2 linked regions of the Homo sapiens genome follow. The protein of the gene in region 1 purifies or fractionates together with the protein of each later gene. This does not show direct contact. Each region holds a gene or a part of one and is shown in the gene's direction. Other genes may lie near its edges.

Region 1 (3,820 bases):
AGGACTTGGGAGAAGGGAGGTGTTGCAGTGGTTCAGGTGAGAGTTACGGGGCTTGGTGGGTTAGGGTGGTAGTGGGAAATATGGAGGGAAGGATATATATAAAACACATCTGTATAAAACATACAGAAAAGTACAAAGAATAATGAAACCAGCACTCTTGTTCCCACTACTCAGAATTGACATAATAGCTGTCAATGTTCTGTTGCATTTTTTAGGTCCGTTTTTTAAAAAATAAAGCATTACTGGTAAGTCTCTCCATCTCAGTATATTGTGGTGTTCTTCCAGTTGCTCAGGCCAAAATTTTGGTGCCATCTTTCACTTCTTTTGCCTTAAGCCTTCTCATGGTTCTCCCATTGTCATCCTTGTTCACACTGCAGCCAGGGCGATTCCCTTTGACACGCAGGTCATGTCACTCCTCTCTGAAAGTTTGCTCTTTCCTCGGTTTATTGAGAATCCTATTCTCAGACCACCTTACCATGGCCATGGCCCACACGCTGTAGTTTAGGGGCTGCAAGTTCTTCTTCTTCTTTTTTTTTTTTTTTTTGAAATGGAGTCTTGCTCTGTCACCTGGGCTGGAGTGCAGTGGAGCGATCTCGGCTCACTGCAACATCCGCTTCCTGGGCTCAAGTGATTCTCCTGCCTCAGCCTCCTGAGTAGCTGGGACTACAGGCGCGTGCCACCATGCCCGGCTAATTTTTTGTAATTTTTTTTTTTTAATAGATACGGGTTTCACCATATTGGCCAGGCTGGTCTTGAACTCCTGACCTCGTGATCTGCCTGCCTTGGCCTCCCAAAGTGCTGGGATTACAGGCATGAGCCACCACGCCCAGCCAAGCTTTTTTTTCATAAAAGGGCCGGATAGTAAACCTCATAGGCTTTGTGGGCCACATATGATCTCTGTCACAAGTCTTTTTTTTTTTCATAACCTTTTCAATATGTAAAAAACATTCTGACCTTGGGGACTGCCCTTGACTACTACTCTAGTCCCCTGCTATCTCTTTGACATTGTCTGTTGCTCCTCTCCCGTTTCCTCCCTGACTCTGCTCTGTCTCATTGGTCTCCTTGCCAAGCACACTCCTGCCTCAGTGCCTGTGCACTTGCTGCCCCTGTAGTGGTTTCCTCTTAGATACCTGCATGTGGTGTATCCTTGCTTCATTCAAGTTTGTGCTCAAATGTTTCCTTATCACAGAAGTCTTCCTTGACCAACCTATCTAAAATCACATTCATTGTTACTGTCAGCTCTATTTTTCTCCCTTAGCACATGTCACGCCTTACCTATTACATATTTGTTTCTTTTCTCTTACAATGTGAGTTCTGTGAAAGTAAGAATATTTTCTGCTTTTATCCAGTTATATCTCCAAGATCTAGAACAGTGCTTGGTACATAGTAGCCTTTCAGTAAATATTTGTTAATAAATACTGAATAAAGTTGAAGTCACTTGTGTCTAGCAATCCCTGGTCCTTTTGCTCTTTGCTTTCAATGTTTCTTAGAGGCAGCCATTATGAATTCGATATGGGGCCCTCTGGTGTATGGTGTTTTTGTTAGTTTTTTGAGATGGAGTCTCACTCTGTCACCCAGGCTGGAGTGCAGTGGTGTGATCGCAGCTCACTGCAATCTCCATCTCCTGGGTGCAAGCGATTCTTCTGCCTCAGCCTTCCGAGTAGCTGGGATTACAGGCAGGCGCCACCACACCCAGCTAATTTTTGTAATTTTACTAGAGACAGTGTCTCACCTTGTTGGCTAGGCTGCTCTCGAACTCCTGACCGCAAATGATCCACCCGCTTTGGCCTCCCAAAGTGCTTGGATTGCAGGCATGAGCCACCGTGCCCAGCCTGGTATATATTTCATACTTCAACAGATGTGCGTGTGCCTCTGTAAGCAATGTACAGGTCTCCTTTTTGTTTTTTTTTCTTTTGAGACGGAGTTTTGCCCTTGTTGCCCAGGCTGGAGTGCAATGGAGCCATCTTGGCTCACTGCAACCTCCGCTTCCTGGATTCAAGCGATTCTTCTGCCTCACCCTCCTGAGTAGCTGGGATTACAGGTGCCCGCCATCATGCCCAGCTAATTTTTGCATTTTTAGTAGCGATGGGGTTTCACCATGTTGGCCAGGCTGGTCTTGAACTTCTGACCTCAGATGATCTGCCGGCCTCAGCCTCCCAAAGTGCTGGGATTACAGGTGTGAGCAACCGCACCCGGCCCTAATTGGTTTTAAAAAGATTATAAAGCCGAGATCACACTGTATGTAATCTTCTGCAGCTTGCATTAGAGATTATCCTTGTGATTATATATAGACCTTGTTTAATTTAACTGCGATCACGTTTTGTCTATCTTGTCCTGTGTTGAACTTTTTTTTTTTTTTTCCTGAAGTTAGTGTCCTCACTCTGTTTCCCAGGCTGGAGTGCAGTGGTGTGATCTTGGCTCATTGAAACCTCTACCTCCCAGGTTCAAGCGATTCTTCTGCCTTAACCACTTGAGTGGCTGGGATTACAGGCTTGCAACACCATGCCCTGGTAAATTTTTAGTATTTTTAGTAGAGACAGGTTTTTGCTACGTTGGCCAGGCTGGTCTTGAACTCCTGACCTCAAGTGATCCGCCTGCCTCGGCCTTCCAAATTCTGGGATTACAGGTGTGAGCCACCGGGCCTAGCCCTGTGTTCAACTTTTTAATGTCAATGTTACACTGGTGGTGTTACAAACGGTACTGAGGTGAGCTCCCTAGTCTTCTCTCCCCTCACAAATGTGAGTTTATCTAGAGTATATTTCTAGAATTGCAGTTGTGAGTTATAGGCATGCTTCAGTTTTAATAGATAACAGATTGCTTTCTCATTAGGGGCTTGTGAGTAGTGTGATTTCCCAGCATTCTAATCAGCACACAGTGTTTGCCTTACTTTTAAATATTTACCTATCTCATGGGTAAGAAATGATGTATTGCTTTAATTTGTGTTGCTTTATAGTGACAAAATATATATTTTAAAAGCTGTTATATTAGGTTCAGGGGTACATGTGAAGGTTTCTCGTAAGTGAGCTCTTGTTATGGGATGGAATGTATTTTGGAGAATCAGATGGACATACTGTCAGCTTGGAGAAGGTTAGAGGTATAGAAACTGTAGGAATCAAATATGACTTTAGGTTTCTGGCTTGGTAGTGGTGTTGCTTAATGAACAGGGGAAAAAACTATTGTGAGGGTTCATTTTTTTTTTTGGTCAAAAATGCCTTTACTTTGCCTCCACTTAAACACAATTTTTTTATTAGAGTCGCGCTCTGTTGCCCAGGCTGGAGAGCAGTGACGCCATCATAGCTCACTGCAGCCTTGAACTCCTGGGCTCAAGCAGTCCTCCTGCCTCAGCCTCCCGAGTAGCTAGGACTACAGGCATGTGCCACTGTGCTAAGCTTGCCTCTGTTTTTGAAGGATAGTTTCATCAGGATTATAGTTGGAGGCTTTCAAGTTAATTTATTGCAGTTTTTAATTTTTTGTAAAGATGGGAGGTCTCACTATGTTGCTCAGGCTGGTGTTGAACTACTGGCCTCAAGTGATCCAAAGTGTTGGGATTACAGGCATCAGCCATTGAGCCTGGCCTTCCTACAGTGTTTTGAAGGGGTAGTTTTACTGCTTTCTGGCTTCCACTGATTCTGTGGAGAAGTCAGCTGCATCAGTCTTATTGTCACTCTTTTCCAGTTAGTGTGTTTTTTCTTCCCTTTAGGCTGCTTTTAAGATGTTCTCTTTGGGTTTGGTTTTCAGCTGTTATGTGGTGTGTCCAGATGTGGTTTTCCTCAAGTGTATCCTGCTTGGGATTAGTTGTTCTTTTTCTTCTCTTTGGCAG
Region 2 (3,212 bases), on another chromosome or scaffold:
GTCATACCTTTCATACAGCACTTAGACAAGGACAGCCAGGGCCCCCCCACCTGGGTCCTGTGCTTTTAGATCAATATTTCTCAATACTTAATGTGCACACAAAGCCCTGGGGATTGTGTTAAGCCACAGATTCTGGCTCAGTAGATCCTAGCCCTGAGATTCTGCATTTATAAGAAGCTCCCTGGTGATGCCCATGCTGCTGGTCCAGGGACCACACTTTGAGTGGCAAGGCCTTTCAGGGTTTTATGAGAATTTTTTTTTTTTTTTTTAGCTGGAGTCTCGCCGTTGTCCAGGGTGGAGTATAGTGGTGCGATCTCTATTCACTGCAACCTCTGCCCCCCAGGTTCAAGCAATTCTTGTGCCTCAGCCTCCCAAGTAGCTGGGATTACAGGCACCTGCCAACATGCCCTGCTAATTTTTCTAGTTTTAGTAGAGATGGGGTTTCACCATATCAGCCAGGCTGGTCTCCAACTCCTGGCCTCAAGTGATCCGCCCACCTCGGCCTCCCAAATGCTGGGATTACAGTTGTGAGCCATGGTGCCTGGCCATTTTATGAGGATTAAATAAGCAGATGTACATAAACATGGTTAGAAGAGTGCCTCACACATGATGGGTGCTCAGTTGATGTCATTCCTCTCTGCCTTCCTCCTTGAAAGTTTTAGAAAAAGACTCAGTGGAGGAGAGAGTTCACGCGAAATTATTAGGACCACAGTGATCAGGTTACAGAATGGTGAAGCTGGAGATGACTCTAGGGTGCCTAGAGGGGGGTTCTTAAATTCCACCTTTCCCAGGCATCACCTAAAAATATACTGACATAGAAAATCTTGGAATGGGCCCCTGGAATTGTTAGTTTAACAAAAAAAGTTCCAGTAGCCTTTGATGCCTTTTTTTTTTTTTTTTTAAATTACTGATCTGGTCCAAACCCTCATTTTATTTTTCCTCAAAAACGTTTTTTAAAACTTTTATTCCACTTTCAAGAGTACATGTGCATGTTGGTTGTATAGATAAATTACTGTGTCGTAGGAGTTTGGTGTATATATGATGTCATCACCCAGGTAATAAGCATAGTACCCAGTAGGTAGTTTTTCAATCCCCTCCCTCCTCCTGCCTCCCACCCTGAAGCAGGCCCTGGTGCCTGTTTTTCCCTTCTTTGTGTCCATGTGTATGTACTCAATGCCAAACCCTCATTTGAGAGATGAGCCCCAGAGGGGTGAAGTGACAGCCCTAAGCCATGCAGAAGTTTCAATCAATGATTCGTTCATCATTCAATATATGTTTTCTGAACACCTTCTGTGTTCAAGGCACCATGCTGGCTTCTAGGGGGACTCAGTGGTGAAAAGCCTGACCCCAGTACCTGTTCTTACAGAACTCATAGCCTAGTGGGAGCCTAGATATCAGACACGGATCAGGTAGACAGTATGGACAATCATACATGGTCATAAATGCTTTCCATCCTGTACAAAGTAAAGGCTGCAGCGTCAGAGGTCGCAGGGGGACCTGACTTAGATTGGGGAACCAGAGAAGGCTCCTCTTAGGAAGTGACCTTTCAGATGAGACCTGAAGGGTTTGCAGAAAAGAACCAGGTGGAGAGTGGGCAAAGCCAGGGAAAGAGCATGGCACAGTTGAGGCACCGAGGGGGTGCCAGTTTGACTGACGGAGGCAAGGGAGCGCCCAGGTGGGGCTGCAGGGCCACCATGCAGGCCTTTTCTCACTGGTGTTCCCCGGTTCTGTCCATAGCAAACGGGCCCCATCAGTGCCACCCTGGTGATGACACGCCCCATCAAAGGGCCCCGGGAAATCCAGCTGGACTTGGAAATGATCACTGTCAACACTGTCATCAACTTCAGAGGCAGCTCCGTGATCCGACTGCGGATATATGTGTCGCAGTACCCATTCTGAGCCTCGGGCTGGAGCCTCCGACGCTGCCTCTCATTGGCACCAAGGGACAGGAGAAGAGAGGAAATAACAGAGAGAATGAGAGCGACACAGACGTTAGGCATTTCCTGCTGAACGTTTCCCCGAAGAGTCAGCCCCGACTTCCTGACTCTCACCTGTACTATTGCAGACCTGTCACCCTGCAGGACTTGCCACCCCCAGTTCCTATGACACAGTTATCAAAAAGTATTATCATTGCTCCCCTGATAGAAGATTGTTGGTGAATTTTCAAGGCCTTCAGTTTATTTCCACTATTTTCAAAGAAAATAGATTAGGTTTGCGGGGGTCTGAGTCTATGTTCAAAGACTGTGAACAGCTTGCTGTCACTTCTTCACCTCTTCCACTCCTTCTCTCACTGTGTTACTGCTTTGCAAAGACCCGGGAGCTGGCGGGGAACCCTGGGAGTAGCTAGTTTGCTTTTTGCGTACACAGAGAAGGCTATGTAAACAAACCACAGCAGGATCGAAGGGTTTTTAGAGAATGTGTTTCAAAACCATGCCTGGTATTTTCAACCATAAAAGAAGTTTCAGTTGTCCTTAAATTTGTATAACGGTTTAATTCTGTCTTGTTCATTTTGAGTATTTTTAAAAAATATGTCGTAGAATTCCTTCGAAAGGCCTTCAGACACATGCTATGTTCTGTCTTCCCAAACCCAGTCTCCTCTCCATTTTAGCCCAGTGTTTTCTTTGAGGACCCCTTAATCTTGCTTTCTTTAGAATTTTTACCCAATTGGATTGGAATGCAGAGGTCTCCAAACTGATTAAATATTTGAAGAGAGCTTGTGTTTGGTTCATTTTGACATCATAGACGAGTCAGCCTTTGGGGTTCTAGTTCTGTTTAAACCTGTTTATTGTGCGCTGGCTTAGAAAGCTCTCCAGAGAGCTAGGGCATTATCTGTGACTCTGGCAAATTGATGGGAGGGGGGCGGTGGGGCAGAGAAATAGGGGTCGTGGGGAAGTTAGGGGGAGGCATCATCCCTGAGTCCTGTTTCATCTGATTAGAAAACAACCAACAATCCTTCTCTTACGTAGATTATTTCCGGTGCTCCTGCAGAACAGGAATGTATTCAAGTTACTTTAAACCAGTGGCCTTCAACCCTGGCTGCATAGACGGATAACCAGTAGAACTTTGGAGGAAAGATTGATTCCCCGGGACATGCCCCCAGACACTCTGATGTCATTGGGCTTAGGTAGGGCCCGGCCATCAGGATTTTTGAAAACTTGACTATGTAGCCAGAGTTGAGAATGTATTGTTATAAACCCTAGAAAGAGAGGTGG

The links.
Region 2: the proteins of CYTH3 (region 1) and FBLN5 purify together in Homo sapiens (co-immunoprecipitation; one large-scale study listed by IntAct). This does not show direct contact.

What each region holds. Positions count from the first base shown.
Region 1 is NC_000007.14:6,262,343-6,266,162, reverse strand, and holds part of CYTH3 (cytohesin-3), read left to right. Parts: intron 1-3,820. UniProt on the Homo sapiens protein: Promotes guanine-nucleotide exchange on ARF1 and ARF6. Promotes the activation of ARF factors through replacement of GDP with GTP. Plays a role in the epithelial polarization.
Region 2 is NC_000014.9:91,868,911-91,872,122, reverse strand, and holds the end of FBLN5 (fibulin-5 isoform 1 precursor), read left to right. Parts: intron 1-1,737; coding exon 1,738-1,899; 3' UTR 1,900-2,712; downstream 2,713-3,212. UniProt on the Homo sapiens protein: Essential for elastic fiber formation, is involved in the assembly of continuous elastin (ELN) polymer and promotes the interaction of microfibrils and ELN. Stabilizes and organizes elastic fibers in the skin, lung and vasculature.